Regions from separate parts of the Homo sapiens genome. Here region 1 is linked to region 2. The links come from fine-mapping of genetic effects on gene expression. A gene starts in region 2. The other region holds a variant in brackets. All regions are shown on one strand. Distances are from middle to middle.

What was found. PIP is the estimated chance that this variant, and not a neighbour inherited with it, causes the effect.
Region 1: its variant is the best candidate, but not a certain one, in a credible set for the expression of CCL26 in tibial nerve (GTEx, PIP 0.85).

The regions. Positions count from the first base shown.
Region 1 is chr7:75,789,464-75,797,859 of GRCh38, forward strand. It overlaps a transcript of CCL26 not described here. Among named protein-coding and RNA genes, the nearest start is that of CCL24, 20 kb to the right of the region's middle. The variant G/C (reference allele first, on the strand shown) is at 4,977.
Region 2 is chr7:75,767,451-75,775,696 of GRCh38, forward strand. It overlaps CCL26 (C-C motif chemokine ligand 26), which reads right to left and starts at 4,761. Exons shown (of 3, transcript NM_001371938.1): 1 at 4,654-4,761; 2 at 4,439-4,553; 3 at 2,088-2,339. The coding sequence starts at 4,726. The coding sequence ends at 2,243. RefSeq lists a silencer at 5,281-5,575.

The sequences.
Region 1 (8,396 bases), 22 kb after region 2:
TTTTTTTTTTTTTTGCCAGAATGTTTCTCATTTCAAGAGAAAGTGCTGGCTGCCTACAGCATGTCAGACCCCAGCTGTTTTCCATACTTCTGCCTTTCCCTGCCTTTGGCAATGGAGTCTATCCTCTGAAAATTCTCTTCTGCAATGAGAAACCCCCACACTTTGCCCCCCTCCCCACCACCAAACAAGGCCCATTACTTCCTTCCAAACCCCAACCTGGCAGGTTCCCAGAAACAAAGTCCCTGACCCTTACCTGGGGTCTTTGGCTCAGCCTCAATTCCAGACTCCTGGCTCATCCTCCAGAGCTTGCTAGTGCTGCTCCAGTCCCTGGGATCTGCGGTACCCCTGGGACCCCAAGTCAAGACCTCCTCTTGGCTTACGTAAGGACATTTACAAACAGCCATTCCCAAATAACTCACATTTCTGAGGTTCTGGGTGGACAATGAATTCTTGGGGTATATTATTCAACCCAGTACAGATGTATTGCAGAAATAATCTCCCATCCCACAGATTGCCTTTCTACGTCTTACGGTTCTCCCTCCCTCCCTCCCTCCCTTCCTTCCTTCCTTCCCTCCATTCCTCCCTACCTCTCTTTCTTTCTTTCCCTTCTTTTCTTCCTTCTTCCCCAGCTCTCTCCCTCCTTTTCTCTTTCTTTTTCTTTCTTTCTTTCTCTCTCTCTCTTTCTGTCTCTCTCCCTTCCTTCCTTCCTTCCTTCCTTTCTTTCTTTCTTTCTTTCTTTCTTTCTTTCTTTCTTTCTTCCTTCCTTCCTTCCTTCCATCCTCCCTCCCTCCCTCCCTCCATACCTCTTTCTCTCTCTTTCTTTTCTTTTTCTTTTCTTTGCAGTGGTGCAATCATAGCTCCCTGCAACCTCAAGATCCTGGGCTCAAGCAGTCCTCCCACCTCAGCCTTCTGAGTAGCTGGAACTACAGGCATGCACCACCATGTTCTGCTAACTTAAAAAAAAAATTGTAGAGATGGGGTCTTGCTGTGTTGCCCAGGCTGGTCTTGAATTCCTGGCCTCAATCTCCTGGACTTAAGTGATCCTCCCACCTCAGCCTCCCAAAGTGCTAGGATTACAGGCAGGAGCTGCTGTGCCTGGCCTCTTATGGATGTCTTCTAATGGATTTTAATATAGTTTTATTTATCAGCTTTCCTCCTGTATGGGTAAGTGATTATACCCTGTTTATAAAACATTTGAGGCTGGACATGGTGGCTCACACCAGTAATCCCAGCACTGTGGGAGGCCGAGGCAGGCAGATCACTGGAGGTCAGGAGTTCAAGACCAACCTGGCCAATGTGGTGAAATCCCGTCTCTATTAAAAATACAAAAATTAGCCAGGTGTGATAGTGAGTGCCTGTAGTCTCAGCTACTCGGGAGGCTGAGGCAGGAGAATAGCTTGAGTTTGGAAGGTGGAGTTTGCAGTGAGCCAAGATTACGCCACTGCACTCCGGCCTGGGCGATAGAGACTCCATTTCAAAAAAAAAAAAATTTGAGTCCCTTCACCCAAGAGGCATGTCTGTCTATAAATGGCTTCTGCTGAAACTCCTCCTTTTTTTTTTTTTTTTCTTTTTTTCTTTTTGAGACAGAGTCTTGCTCTTGTCACGCAGGCTGGAGTGCAATGGCACGATCTCGGCTCACTGCAACTTCTGCCTCCCGGGTTCAAGCAATTCTCCTGCCTCAGCCTCCCGAGTAGCTGGGATTACAGGCACCCGCCACCACACCTGGCTAATTTTTGTATTTTTAGTAGAGACAAGGTTTTGTCATGTTGGCCAGGCTGGTCTCAAACTCCTGGCCTCGTGATCCACCCGCCTCAGCTCCCAAAGGGCTGGGATTACAGGTGTGAGCCACCACGCCTGGCTGAAACTCCCTCTTGGTACTTGTGTCCGAGGCCCCCTCAGTCAGGACCTTGAGTATGCCCTTGATGTCAGCCCATAGCTGGCGGCCCTGGCTCCTGCTCTCTTCCCTCCAGGCCCTTCCCTGTGGCTGAAGCCCCTTCCCTGTACCCTCCAGGTTGCTTCCTGGGCTCCAGATTCCTCTGTGTGGATCTCCCAGGAGCCCCCATCTGCTGTGGTTCCCAGGGTCTAGGCTGCCATCTGGGCTTCCCACTTCTCGGCCTCTCAAAGTGCTGGGATTACAGGCGTGAGCTGCTGTGCCAGGCTGTAAGTTTTAATGAGGTCATAAGGATGGGACTCTGATCCAACATGACAGATGTCCTTATAAGAAAAGAAGCCAGGCCTGGGTGACTCATGCCTGTAATCCCAGCACTCCCAGGCGGGAGGATTGCTTCAGCCCAGAAGTTCAACAAGTAAGTAAGGTTTTTTTTCCATCCTTTTTTTGTTTTGAGACAGGGTCTCACTCTGTCACCGACGCTGGAGTGCAGAGGTGTGATCACAGCTCACGGCAGCCTCCACCTCCCCAAGCTCAAGTGATTCTCCCACCTCACCCTCCCAAGCAGCTGGGACCACAGGCATGCACCACCACACCTGGCTACTTTGTTTTTATTTTTATTTATTTATTTAGAGACAGAGTCTTGCTGTGTTACCCAGGCATGTTACCCACGATTTCAGCTCACTGCAGCCTCTGCCTCCTCTGGCTCAAGCAATCCTCTTACCTCAGTCTCCCGAGTAGCTGGGACTACAGGCATGCGCCACCACACCCAGATACTTTCTGTATTTTTAGCAGAGATGGGGTTTCACCGCGTTGGCCAGGCTGGTCTCAAACTCCTGACCTCAGGTGATCCACCCACTTCGGCCTCCCAAAGTGCTGGGATTACAGGCGTGAGCCGCCATGCCTGGCTGTAAGTTTTAATGAGGTCATAAGGATGGGACTCTGATCCAATATGACAGGTGTCCTTATAAGAAAAGAAGCCACCAGGCATGGGTGACTCATGCCTGTAATCCCAGCACTCCCAGGTGGGAGGATTGCTTCAGCCCAGAAGTTCAAGACCAGCCTGGTCAACATAGTGAGATCCCATCTCTATAAAAAATAAAAATTAGCCAGACATAGTGGCGCACGCCTGTAGTCCCAGCTACTCAAGAGGCTCAAGCGGGAGGCTCCCTTGAGCCCAGGAGTTTGAAATCAGTCTGGGCAATGTAGTGAGACCCTATCTCTACATAAAATACAAAAATTAGCCGGGCGTGGTGGCACATGCCTGTAGTGCCAGCTACTTGGGAGGCCGAGGCAGGAGGATTGCTGGAGCCCAGGAGTTCAAGGCTGCAGTGAGCTGTGGTCACACCACTGCACTCCAGCCTGAGCAACAGAGCAAGACCCCTATCTCAAATAAATAAATAAATAAATAAATAAATAAATAAATAAATAAATAAATAAGTGTAACAGGGAGAGAGTAAAGAGGTTTTGTTTTGTTTTTTGTTTTTTTTTTTTTTAGATGGAGTCTTGCTCTGTCACCCAGGCTAGAGTGCAATGGTGCGATCTTGGATCACTGCAACCTCTGCCTCCCGGCTTTAAGCAATTCTCCTGTCTCAGCCTCCCAAGTAGCTGGGACTATAGGTGCCCACCACCATGCCCGGCTAATTTTTGTATTTTTAGTAGAGATGGGGTTTCACCATGTTGGCCAGGCTGGTCTGGAACTCCTGACTTCAAGTGATCTGCCTGCCTTGGCCTCCCAAAGTGCTGGAATTACAGGCATGGGCCACCGGGCCCGGCCAACAGTAAGGAGTTTTAAGCAGGGGAGTCACACGATGAGAGGACTCATTGATAAAGATGAGTCTGGCTGCTGTAAGGACACAATACTAGAGAGGGACAGAGGGATGTGGAGGCCCAGCATGAAGCCTCCTTTTGTCTCCATAACCCTTCAGCACAGGGTTCTGGAATGTATTTATGTGGCAAATGTTTGCTCGTTCTTTTTTTCTTTTTTTTGAGATGGAGTCTCGCTCTGTCAGGTTGGAGTGCAGGTCGGCTCACTGCAACCTCCACCTCCTGGGTTCAAGCAATTCTCCTGCCTCAGCCTCCCGAGTAGCTGGGACTATAGGTGCGCACCACCACATCCAGCTAATTTTTGTATTTTTAGTAGAGATATGGTTTCACCATGTTGACCAGACTGGTGTCAAACTGCTGACCTCAAGTGAGCTGGCCACCTCAGCCTCCCACAGTGCTGGGATTACAGGCATAAGTCACTGCATCCAGCCAAATGTTTGCTGAATTCTTACAGCCCCAGCAATGTCCAAGGCTCTGGAGACACCGTGGTGGACAGGACACCATCCCTGTCCTTAAGAAAGGTGAGTATAGAATTTGAGCATAAGTGGAGAAAGAACAAAGAGAGAAAGAAAGAGAGAGAGAGAGAGAGAGGGAGAGAGGGAGGGGAAGGGGAAGGGGAGGAAGGAAGGGGAAGGAAGAAAGGAAGAAGAAAGGAAGGAAGGGAGGAAGGGAGGGAGGGAGAGAGAGAGAAAGAAAGAAAGAAAGAAAAGAAAAGAAAAGAAAAGAAAGACAGAAAGAAATAAAGAAAAAGAAAGAAAGAAAAGAAAGCGGGCCAGGTGAGGTGGGTAACACCTGTAATCCCAGCATTTTGGAGGGCCTAGGTGGGCAGATCACTTGAAGTCAGGAGTCGAGCCCAGCCTGGGTAATATGGTGAAACCCTGTCTCTACTAAAAATAAAAAAATTAACTGGGCGTGGTGGTGCCCACCTGTAATCCCAGCTACTCGGGAGGCTGAGGCAGGAGAATCTCTTGAACCCAGCAGGCAGAGAATGCAGTGAGCCAAGATTGTGCCACTGCACTCCAGCCTGGGCGACATAGTGAGACTCTGTCAATAAAAAAAAGAAAGAAAGAAAAAGAGAGAGAGAGAGAAATAAGAGAGAAAGAGAAAGGAAGGAAGGAAGGAAGGAAGGGAGAGAAAGAGAAAGAGAGACCGCGTGCAGTGGCTCACACCTGTAATCCCAGCACTTTGGGAGGCTGAGGTGGGTGGATCCCTTGAGGTCAGGAGTTTGAGACCAGGCTGGCCAACATGGTGAAACTTGTCT[G/C]TACTAAAAATACAAAAATTAGCCAGGTGTGGTGGCACGTGCCTGTAATCCCACCTACTTGGGAGGCTGAGGCAGGAGAATTGCTTGAACCTGAGAGGCGGAGGTTGCAGTGAGCCGAGATCGCACCACTGCACTCCAGCGTGGGCAACAGAGCAAGACTCTATCTCAAACAAAAAAAAAAGAAGAAGAAAAAAGGAAAAAAAAAAAGAGAGAAGTAAGGAGTGGATGTAAAGAAACTCCCTTGTCTGCTGTCCCAGTGAGACCTACACATGGGGAGCTAGTGAGGGGAGCCAGAGGAGGCACAGTGTGTTAGGAGGGGTTCCCCAGCCCTGGGAAGCTCTTCCTGGAGGAAGCAGCATCCTGGCTTGTGTGCAACAGAGACCAAGCCGAATCAGGAGAATAAAAACATGTTTCGGCCGGGCGCCGTGGCTCACACCTGTAATCCCAGCACTTTGGGAGGCTGAGGCAGGAGGATTACTTGAGCCCAGGAGTTCAACACTAGCCTGGGCAATATAGTGGAACCCTGTCTCTACAAAATCTTAAAAATCAGCTGGGCATGGTGGCACATGTCTGTAGTCCCAGCTACTTGGGGAGCCTGAGGTGAGAGGATCGCTTGAGGCCAGGAGGTTGAAGTTGCAGTGAGACACGATCACACCACTGCACTCCAGCCTGGGTGACGGAGTGAGACCCTGTCTCAAACAAACAAACAACTAAAAAACCGTATCTCCTGGAGTTGGAAGAAAAACAAACTTTTTTGTTTGTTACCAGTTAATCCATTTACCCTGAAAGCGGTTCTAGGAGAGTGGTTTCTTTATTTCTCTTTCTTTCTTTCTTTCCTTCTTTCTTTCTCTCTCTTTCCTTCCTTCCTTCCTTCTTTCTTTCTTTCTCTCTTTCTTTTTCTATCTTTGTTTCTTGATCTCTTGCTTTCTTCTTTCTTTCTTTCTTGATCTCTTGCTTTCTTCTTTCTATCTTTCTTTCTTGCTCTCTTGCCTTCTTCTTTCTTTTTTTCTCTTTCTTTTTTTTTTTTTTGAAACAGGGTCTCCCTCTGTCACCCAGGCTGGAGTGCAGTGGTGCAATCTCGGCTCACTGCAGCCTCCAGCTCCTCGGTTCAAGCGATTCTCCTGCCTCAGCCTCCCAAGTAGCTGGGACTATAGGCATGCACTACCACGCCTGGCTAAGTTTTGTACTTTTAGTAGAGACAGGGTTTCACCATATTGCCCAGGCTGGTCTCGAACTCCTGACCTCAAGTGATCCACCTGCCTCGGCCCCCAAAAGTGCTGGGATTACAGGCATGAGCCATGACACCCGGCCTAGGGAGGTTTTCTTATCCCCTTTTACAGCCTAGAAAACTGTGGTTTGTTCAAGGCCACAAAACTCATGGATGGCAGAACCAAGGCTCAGAGCTGGGTCTGTGTCATGCCTGTGCCTTGTCCTGCCTCTGACAGTCTCAGAGTCCTACCCCCCAACCCTTAACGCTGAGAATGAACCTTCAGGGTGGCTTCCGCCAGGCTTTGTCCCGAAGCTAAAACTACTCTGTAGTTACAGGACCATATCAGAGCCAAGGGCAAATAGCAGCTAGATAGATAAGGGGAGGCATCTGCGGGTTAGCAAAAGTCAGCAAATTCCCTTCCAAACTTTCAATTGGCCAATAAAAAAAGGGAAATGCAGCCCATCCCACCAGCTTCGAGAACATAACAACGAACTGCCAGTTGCTTGGGAGAAGCGCAGCTCTTCCCCATTCTGAGTCTTGAGAGATGTTTCCCCAAGCAAGGTCGTGACCGGGCATGACCCATAGCAAGAACTGAATGTTCCTTTGGGCTTGAGATTATTCAGAAGTTAGAAGGCTGGGGAGAGAGAGACTTCCAGGGAATGCCTTTTTAGAGGCTGAAAAGCACTCCAACCTGGACAACAGAGTGACACTCCGTCTCAAAAAAAAACTAGTGGCAAAAGGCAGAAGGTGGGATTTAGTAGGAGCCACGGGAGGAGGGGTCTGGGGTCCTCTTGCTGGCCTGCTTACACTGAGCATTCGGGGAGTATTAGTCTCCCCTACTCAGCTACGGTCAGTAACAGAATAATTTCCTCTAAATCTTGCCTGTATCTCAGGCAGAATAAGCGACTGGAAGACCCAAATGACCACCTTTCTTTTGATGAGACACGGTCTTGATCTGTTGTCCAGGTTGGAGTACAGTGATGCAATCACAGCTCGCTGCAGCCTCCAACTCCTGAACTCTAGCGATCCTCCTGCCTCAACCTCCTAAGTAGCTGGGACCACAGGCACACATCACTATGTCCTGATAATTTTTTTTTTTATTTTTAATTTTCTAGACATGGGGGTCTCCCTGTGTTGCCCAGGCTGGTCTCAAACTCCTGGGCTCAAAGCATCTTCCCACCTTGTCCTCCCAAAGTGCTAGGATACCAGGCACGAGCCATCACACAGGGCCACGTACAGCTTTCTAAGAAGGAAACTTCTGGCCGGGCGCGCCCGTATTTCTAGCACTTTGGGAGGCCCAGTTGGGTGGATAGCCCAAGCTCAAGAGTTTGAGACCAGCCTGGGCAACACGGTGAAAACCCATCTCTACTAAAAAATCCGCTGGGCATGGTGGCATGTGCCTGTAATCCCAGCTACTGGGAAGGCTGAGGCACGGGAATTGCTTGAACCCAGGAGGCAGAGGTTGCAGTGAGCCGAGATCGTGCCACTGCGCTCCAGTCTGGGCAACAGAGGGAGACTTGGTCTCAAAAACAAAACAAAACAAAACAGTCCAGGCGCGGTGGCTCACACCTGTAATCCCAGCACTTTGGGAGGCCAAGGCGGGCAGATCACAAGGTCAGGAGATCGAGACCATCCTGGCTAACACGGTGAAACCCCGTCTCTACTAAAAATACAAAAAAAATTAGCCAGGCATGGTGGTGGGCGCCTGTAGTCCCAGCTACTCAGGAGGCTGAGGCAGGAGAATCGCTTGAACCTGGGAGGCAGAGGTTGCAGTGAGCTGAGTTCACCACCACTGCACTCCAGCCTAGGCGACAGAGCGAGACTCCATCTCAAAAAAAAAAAAAAAAGAAGAAGGAAACTTCCATAAGTTCTTTTGTTTTCTTAGAGATAGGCTCGCTTTTTTTTTGTTTGATTTTTCTGAGACAGAGTCTCACACTGTCGCCCAGGCTGGAGTGCAGTGGCACCATCTCAGCTCACTGGAACCTCCGCCTCCAAGGTTCAGACAGTTCTCTTGCCTCAGCCTCCCGAGTAGCTGGGACTACAGGAATATGCCACCACATGTGGCAATTTTTTGCATTTTTAGTAGAGACAGAGTTTTGCCATGTTTGCCAGGCTGGTCTCAAACTCCTGGCCTCAACTGATCCGCCCGCCTCGGCCTCCCAAAGTGCTGGGATTACAGTCAAGAGCCACCATGCCCAGCCAGAGTCTTG
Region 2 (8,246 bases):
TTATGCAAAGTGAAATAAGCCAGACGCAGAAAGACAAATACTGCCTGATCTCACTTACTACCTACATAGCATCTAAAAAGTCAAATTCATAATACCAAAGAGTAGGATGATGGTTGCCAGGAGCTAAAGATGGTGGTGGATGGGAGGTGTGATTGTCAAGGGGTGAATGGAGGGAGATCTCCGTGACGTTGGAATAGATCGGGATCTCAGTTGCTATAATGTAAATCTATACACGTGATAAAACGACAGTATGACAGAACTATGCACACGCTTTATACCAATGTCAATTTCCTGGGTTTGATATTGCATTATAATTATGTAAGCTGTAGCCATTGGGGTAAACTAAATAAAAGATAGATTTGGGGGCTGGGCACGGTGGCTCACACCTGTAATCCCAGTGCTTTGGGAGGCTGAGGTGGGCAGATGGTTTGAGCCCAAGAATTTGAGACCAGCCTGGGCAACATGGTGAAACCCTGTCTCTGCCAAAATACAAAAGTTAGCCGGGTGTGGTGGACCATGCCTGTAGTCCTACCTACTTGGGAGGCTGAGGTGGGAGGGTCACCTGAACTCAGGGAGGTAGAGGCTATAGGGAGCTGTAATTATGCCACTGCACTCCAGTCTGGGTGACAGAGCAAGACTCTGTCTCAATAATAAAAAAGATACACCTGACCTCCCCATACCATTTTTGCAACTTCTTGTAAATCTATAACAATTATAGATATTAATAATTAATAACTATAAACAATAATTATAGATTCACAAAAAGTTGCAAGAAATGGCAAAAATAATAATAATTATTATTTTATTTATTTATTTATTTATTTATTTATTTATTTATTTTGAGATGGAGTCTCGCTCTGTCGCCCAGGCTGGAGTGCAGTGGCGCGATCTCTGCTCACTGCAAGCTCCGCCTCCCAGGTTCACACCATTCTCCTGCCTCAGCCTCCTGAGTAGCTGGGACTACAGGCACCCGCCACCACGCCCTGCTAATTTTTTGTATTTTTAGTAGAGATGGGGTTTCACTGTGTTAGCCAGGATGGTCTCAATCTCCTGACCTCATGATCCACCTGCCTCGGCCTCCCAAAGTGTTTGGATTACAGGCATGAGCCACTGTGCCCGGACTTTTTATTTTTTATTAAAAAAATATTTTTGAGACAGGGGCTTGATCTGTCACCCAGGCTGGAGTGCAGTGGTGTGATCTTGGCCCATTGCAACCTCTAACTCCTGGCCTCAAGTAATCCTCCTGCCTCAGCCTCCTGAGTAGCTGGGACCACAGGTGTGTGCCACCCCACCTGGCTAATTTTTTGTGTTTTTGTAGAGACAGGGTTTCACTGTGGTGCCCAGGTTAGTCTTTATTATTATTATTATTATTATTTGAGACAGGGTCTTGCTCTGTTGCTCAGACTGGAGTGCAGTGGTGTGATCATGGCTCACTGTATCCTCGACCTCCTAGACTCAAGCAATCCTCCCACCTCAGCCTCCCAAGTAGCTGTGACTACAGGCACCCACCACCACGTCTGAGTAACTGTTAAATTTTTTTGTAGTGATGGGTGCCACTATGTTGCCCAGGCTGATCTCAAACTCCTGGGCTCAAGTGATCCTCCCACCTCAGCCTCCCAGAGTGCTGGGATTACAGCCGTGAACCACTGCACCCGGCTGATTATTTTTGTAAAAAGCTTATTTAAGCTATATAGACAACGCACCCGCAGTTTGGTAGGTAGATAATATTCACATTAACTAATTAGTGTCTTGCTTTCTTAAGAGAAAGCGCTGCCAAACACGGAGCTACTACATTTACACGGCACTGACAGGCTGTGAGGTGTTGCACAGAACTTACTTTTCCAAATAAACTAAACTTTTTTCTCTAAATAATGTTAAAAAATTCACCAAGCATTTTACCAAAGTGTATTAAAATTACCCTTGCTTTTTTTTGCACAAACAAACAAAAACCCACGGCAGAATTCCGTATCGGGGTCTGCCCGGGGGTTGGGGACCTCCCAGGCAACCAGCCATCCATATTGAATCAATTTTCTTTCCTTAAAGAAAACTCGGGTTTTATGGACAAAAAATGTTATGAACAAGTCAACTCTATGAACAACCTTTATTAAAGTAACTCTGGGAGGAAACACCCTCTCCTCCCCAGCGGGTCCATGTAGCCTTCAGAAAAGATTCCGCAGGCTCCCCAGAGGGCTGCAGAGCCAAGAGCGGGGTCCAAGCGTCCTCGGATGAAAATTCAGCTGAGTCACAATTGTTTCGGAGTTTTCAGTAAAGAAATGTATTTTTGCACCCATTTTTTCCTTGGATGGGTACAGACTTTCTTGCCTCTTTTGGTAGTGAATCTGTGAAAAAGAGACACGGATAAGTCAATATTGAGACTCTTTGCCTCCTGGGGTGGGATAGAAAGGGAAGGAGGGGCAGCTCTCTCACTAGTCTTCTGGCCTTGCCACAAACTTGTTGCTCTCTGTCCCTGTCCCCTCTTCTCCTGGGCCTTGTCTCCCTCCTCTTTCCTATCTTGATTTCCACTGGAAACTATGCCTCCAGACCCACCTCTACCAGGTACCATTTACCGTTTTCCACCAGTTCTAGCCTGCAGCATGTAACCTGCACCAGGACACTTAATTTTTTTTTTTTTTTTTTGAGACGAACTCTCACTCTGTTGCCCACATTGGAGTGCAATGGCATGATCTCAGCTCATTGCAACCTCCATTTCCCAGGTTCAAGTGATGCTCCTGCCTCAGACTCCCAAGTAGCTGGGATTATAGGCACGCATCAGCACACCCAGCGAATTTCTGTGTTTTTAATAGAGACAAGGTTTTGCCATGTTGGCCAGGGTGGTCTCGAACTCCTGACCTCAGGTGATCCGCCTGTGTTGGCCTCCCAAAGTGCTGGGATAACAGGTGTGAGCCACCACGCCTAGCCTTTATTTTGTTTTATTTTTTATTTTTTTTGAGACGGAGTTTCACTCTTGTTGCCCAGGCTGGAGTGCAATGGCGCGATCTCGGCTCACCACAACCTCTGCCTCCCAGGTTCAAGTGATTCTTCCGCCTCAGCCTCCCAAGTAGCTGGGATTACAGGCATGCGCCACCACGTCCAGCTAATTTTGTATTTTTAGTAGAGACAGGGTTTCTCCACGTTGGTCAGGCTGGTCTCGAACTCCCAACCTCAGGAGATCTGCCCACCTCAGCCTCCCAAAGTGCTGGGATTACAGGCGTGAGCCACCACGCCCGGCCTATTTTATTTTTTTTGAAACAGTTTCTCTCTTGTCACCCAGGCTGGAGTGCAGTGGCGCGATCTCTACTCCTGCAAACTCCGCCTCCCGGGTTCAAGCGATTCTCCTGCCTCAGCCTCCGGAGTAACTGGGCTTACAGGCCTGCGCCACCTCACCTGGCTGATTCTTTCATTGTAATAGAACAGCTTTGTTGGGATATAATTCACACGGCACATACAGTTGACTCTTGAACAACACGGATTTGAACTCTGTGGGCCCACTCATAGGCAGCCTTTTGCCAACCAAAGGAGGATAGAAAATACAAAACTCGGTGATGCAAAAGCTGCATAAATTCAGGGGAAATTGTATGCCAAAATCCTGGCACCAATCCCCTGTGGTTACTGGGGGATAACTGTAATTCACTCTTTTTTTTCTCTTTTGTTAGGGATGAAGTCTCTCTGTGTTACCCAGGCTGGAGTGCAGTGGTGCGATCATACCTCACTGCAGCCTTGAACTCCTGGGCTCAAGCGATCGTCTAAACCTCCCCACCATGTACAACTCCACCAATTTAAAGGCTATAATTATAATTCAATGGTTTTTAGTATAGTCATAGATTATGCAACCATCACCACAATCAATTTTAGGATATTTTCATCACCCCAGAAAGGAACCCTGCACTCAACATGTCATTTAATTGTTAGCCACATTTTCAAGGTTATTCATCATAGCTGATGATTCCTGAGCTCTTACTTCACTGTGAGTTTATTAAAAGTGGGGATTGGCTGGGTCCAGTGACTCACACTTGTAATCCCAGCATTTTGGGAGGCTGAGGCGGGCAAATCACATGAGCTCAGAAGTTTAAGACCAGCCTGGCCAACCATGGTGAAATTCTACTAATAACACAAAAATTAGCTGAGCATGGTGGCATGTGCCTGTAATTCCAGCTACTTGGGAGGCTGAGGCAGGAAAATTGCTTGAACCCGGGAGGGGGAGGTTGCAGTGAGCCAAGATCGTGCCATTGCACTCTAGCCTGGGCAACAAGAAAGAAACTCCGTCTCAAAAAGAGAAAAAAAAAGTCAGGTTCTACCTGAAGCTCAGAGTCACACTTGTTAGTGTGCAGAGGTGGGGTTTCCAGGTTCCCATCCCAAGGCTCATCCTGGGGGTCTGCCCAGCACCCATCCTGTTGCATGACTGATGGGGCCCCAGAAAGTACGTCCGAGAAATACTCACATCACAGCCCGCTGGGAGCAGCTGTTACTGGTGAATTCATAGCTTCGCACCCAGGTCCAGGGAAGGGGCTTGTGGCTGTATTGGAAGCAGCAGGTCTTGGATATGTCACTCCCACCTAAAAATCAGGGAGAGGAAGGGTTTGGAGATACTCATTTCCATCCACTCCCAGGCGGTCCGGGAAGGAACCCCAGGAGGGGAATGGGCCAGCTACGTACGTGTGGCAGTTCCAAGGTGGAGACTCAGGAGGGAGGCCAGGAGCACAGCAGAGGCCAAGGAGAGGCCCATCATGATGCTGCAAATCAGGCCCTTCTCAGGTTTCTCCCAAACTCCTCCTGCCTGATCCCCTTTTATGAGACTGAGACGGCCCTGAAAACAATTCCAGAGAATTCTGTGGTTGGGAACAGAAGCAGCACTTTTGACCCAACAAAGGAAAAGTAAACTAATACTCATAGGAATGAAATTAGACAGTGAAGAAAGATAATCTGGCACTGGGCGTGGTGGCTCATGCCTGTGATCACAGCACTCTGGGAGACCGAGGTGGGCGGATCCCTTGAGGTCAGGAGTTCAAGATCAGCCTGGCCAACATGGAGAAACCCTGTCTCTACTAAAAACACAAAAATTGGCCGGGCATGGTGGCAGGCAACTGTAATCCCAGCTACTCCTGAGGGTGAGGCAGGAGAATCACTTGAACCTGGGAGGTGGAGGTTGCAGTGAGCTGAGATGGCACCACTGCACTGCAGCCTGGGCGACAGAGTGAGACTCTGCCAAAAAAAAAAAAAACAAACAAACAAACAACAAAAAAAAACAAGTGACAGATGGTAGAGATCCCTTTATTGAATTCCATCAACAGGGACAAAAAAAGAAGAGAATTTGGGAGAAGAGCAGGGGCAGGCAGGCCCCAGGGAGTCTGGTTCCCAGTGCTGTTGGCTGAGTCAACACTTTCTTGTTTAAAAAGAAAAAGCAGAGGAAATTAAGTAATATTCCAGTGAACTGAACTAAGTTACTTTATAGCACAATTGGTTGTTGAAGATAGGTTTCTGGCTCTTGGGCAAAGTTTTGTTTCCTTTCTAAGCATTGCTTATCTCTGTGTGGAGCTCTGGATGGTCTCAAGATGTGATCATAGAGTAGCCCAACCTCGACAATGGATATTTAAAAACAGGGTCCAGGCAGGTGCCAGCCCATCTTCTTGGGGCCACACCTGTAGGGCCAGGGCTGGCTGGGGGCATTTGAGAGATCTAACAGATCCCAAACCTGACAGATCATCACAATCACCCGAGGCTTAAAACAAAACAAAACAAACAAACAACAACAAATAATATATATATATAGTGAGAGAGAGGGCCTGGTCAACATGGTGAAACCCCGTCCCCACTAGAAATAAAAAAATTAGCCAGGCACGGTGGCGGGCACCTGTAATCCCAGCTACTAGGGAGGCTGAGGCAGGAGAATCGCTTGAATGCAGGAGGCAGAGGTTACAGTGAGCCGAGATCCCGCCATTGCACTCCAGCCTGGGCGACAGACCAAGACTGTCTCAAAAAAGAAAAAAAAATAGAGATGAGGTCTCTCTATGTGGCCCAGGTTGGTCTTAAACTCTTGGCTCAAGTGACTGTCTCACCTTGGCCTTCAAAAATGTTGGGATTACAGTGAGCCACCACGTCTGGCCATACCTGGTCAATTATTATTATTATTTTGTGTGTGTGTGTGGGGCCAGTCACAGTGGCTCACGCCTGTAATCCCAGCACTTTGGAAGGCAGAGGCAGGGGGATCGTCTGAGGTCAGGAGGTTGAGATCAGCCTGGCGAACATGGTGAAACCCCGTCTCTACTAAAAATACAAAAATTAGCCGGGCTAATTTTGTGGTGGCTCATGCTTGTAATCCGAGCAACTTGGGAGGCTGAGGCAGGAGAGTCACTTGAACCTGGGGGGCAGAGGTTGCAGTGAGCCAAGATCGTGCCATTGCACTCCAGCCTAAGAAAAAAGAGCAAAACTCTGTCACAAAAAAAAAGAAATTTGTAGAGCCCAAAGGTTGCCAGGCTGGTCTCAAACTCCTGGCTTCAAGGCGATCTGCTTACTCCAGCCTCCCAAAGCACTGGGATTATAGGGGAGAGCCACCACACCTGGCTTCAGCCAAATTTTTAAAAGAACTTAACAGAAGTTTGTGATAGTCAGAGCTGTTGTAGGTGGGAAGAGGATAGATGGTGAGTTGCCTGTCACTCAAACCAGGCACAACAGTCTGGATGATCATGAGAGGGTGGTTTGTTTTTGTTTTTGTTTTTATTGAGATGGAGTTTTGCTCCTGTTGCATACGCTGGAGTGCTATGGCACAATCTCGGCTCACTGCAACCTCTGCCTCCCAGGCTCAAGCAATTCTCGTGACTCAGCCTCCCAAGTAGCTGGGATTACAGGCATGCGCCATCACGCCCGGCTAATTTTGTATTTTTAGTAGAGATGGTGTTTCACCATGTTGGTCAGTCTTGTCTCGAACTCCTGACCTCAAGTGATCCACCTGCCTCAGCCTCCCAAAGTGCTGGGATTACAGGCATAAACCGCCATGCCCAGCTGTTTGTTTGTTTTTTTGAGACAGAGTCTTGCTCTGTCATCCAGGCTGGAGTACAGTGGCACAATCTTAGCTCACTGCAGCCTCCACCTCCTGGGTTCGAATGATTCTTCTGCCTCAGCCTCTGAGTAGCTAGGATTACAGGCATGCACCACCATGCCCGGGTAATTTTTGTATTTTTAGTAGAGACAGGGTTTCACTATGTTGCCCAGGCTGGTCTCGAATTCCTGACCTCAACTGATCTGCCCGCCTCAGCCTCCCAAAGTGCTGAAATTGCAGGTGTGAGCCACCCCACCCGGCCTATTTTTTTTAATTAAATAAAAATTAACTGAGTATGGTGGCATGTGCACCTGTAGGCCCAGCTACTCAGGAGGCCGAGGCAGGAGGGTCACTTGAGCCCAGGAGTTCAAGGCTGCAGTGAACTATGATCATGCCACTGCACTCCAGCCTAGGTGACCGAGCAAGACTCTGTCTCTTTAAAAAAAGAATTATTGGTCGGGCCCGGTGGCTCACCCCTGTAATGCCAGCACTTTGGTAGGCTGATGGGGGTGGATACCTTGAGGTCAGGAGTTCAAGATGAGTCTGGCCAACATGGTGAAACTCCGTCTCTACCAAAAATACAAAAATTAGCTGAGCATGGTGTCGCGTGTCTGTAATCCCAGCTACTTGGGAGGATGAGGCAGGAGTATTGCTTGAACCGGGAGGCAGAGGTTGCAGTGAGCTGAGATCACGCCACTGCACTCCAGCCTGGGCAACAGGGCGAGACTCCATTTCAGAAGGAAAAAAAACAAATTCTTTTTTGACTGAAATCTATATTCCCATTTCTTCTACCTATTGACCCTGTTCTTTACAAAAATGCTTAACTTGTCTTTTATTTTGGAAGATAAAGGAAATTGAGGCTTAGGCAGATTTGAAGATCGTTGTTTTTATTTCAGTTCCTCCAGCAGGCCCTGAGACAAGGATTCTGGTGCAAGTCCTTTATTTGGGAGGTGATTCCACGGGAGCCCCAGGAGAGGAGGGGGAAACTGAGGCAAGGAAGCAGAGGCAGCAACGCAAGGGGAGTTATTAAGCAGGGCATGGCGTGAGCAGCCAAGGAGTTCTGGGAGCCTGTGCAGGGCAGACCTCAGAGCTGGCTTAGCGGGTGGGTCAGGTACCCCCCAGTTCCCTGCTGTCACTGGTTGAGGGCTGCACCCTACACTCCTGGCTTGTGTTATGATCAAACTGAGGGTTCTCTGTGACCAGGAACAAGGCC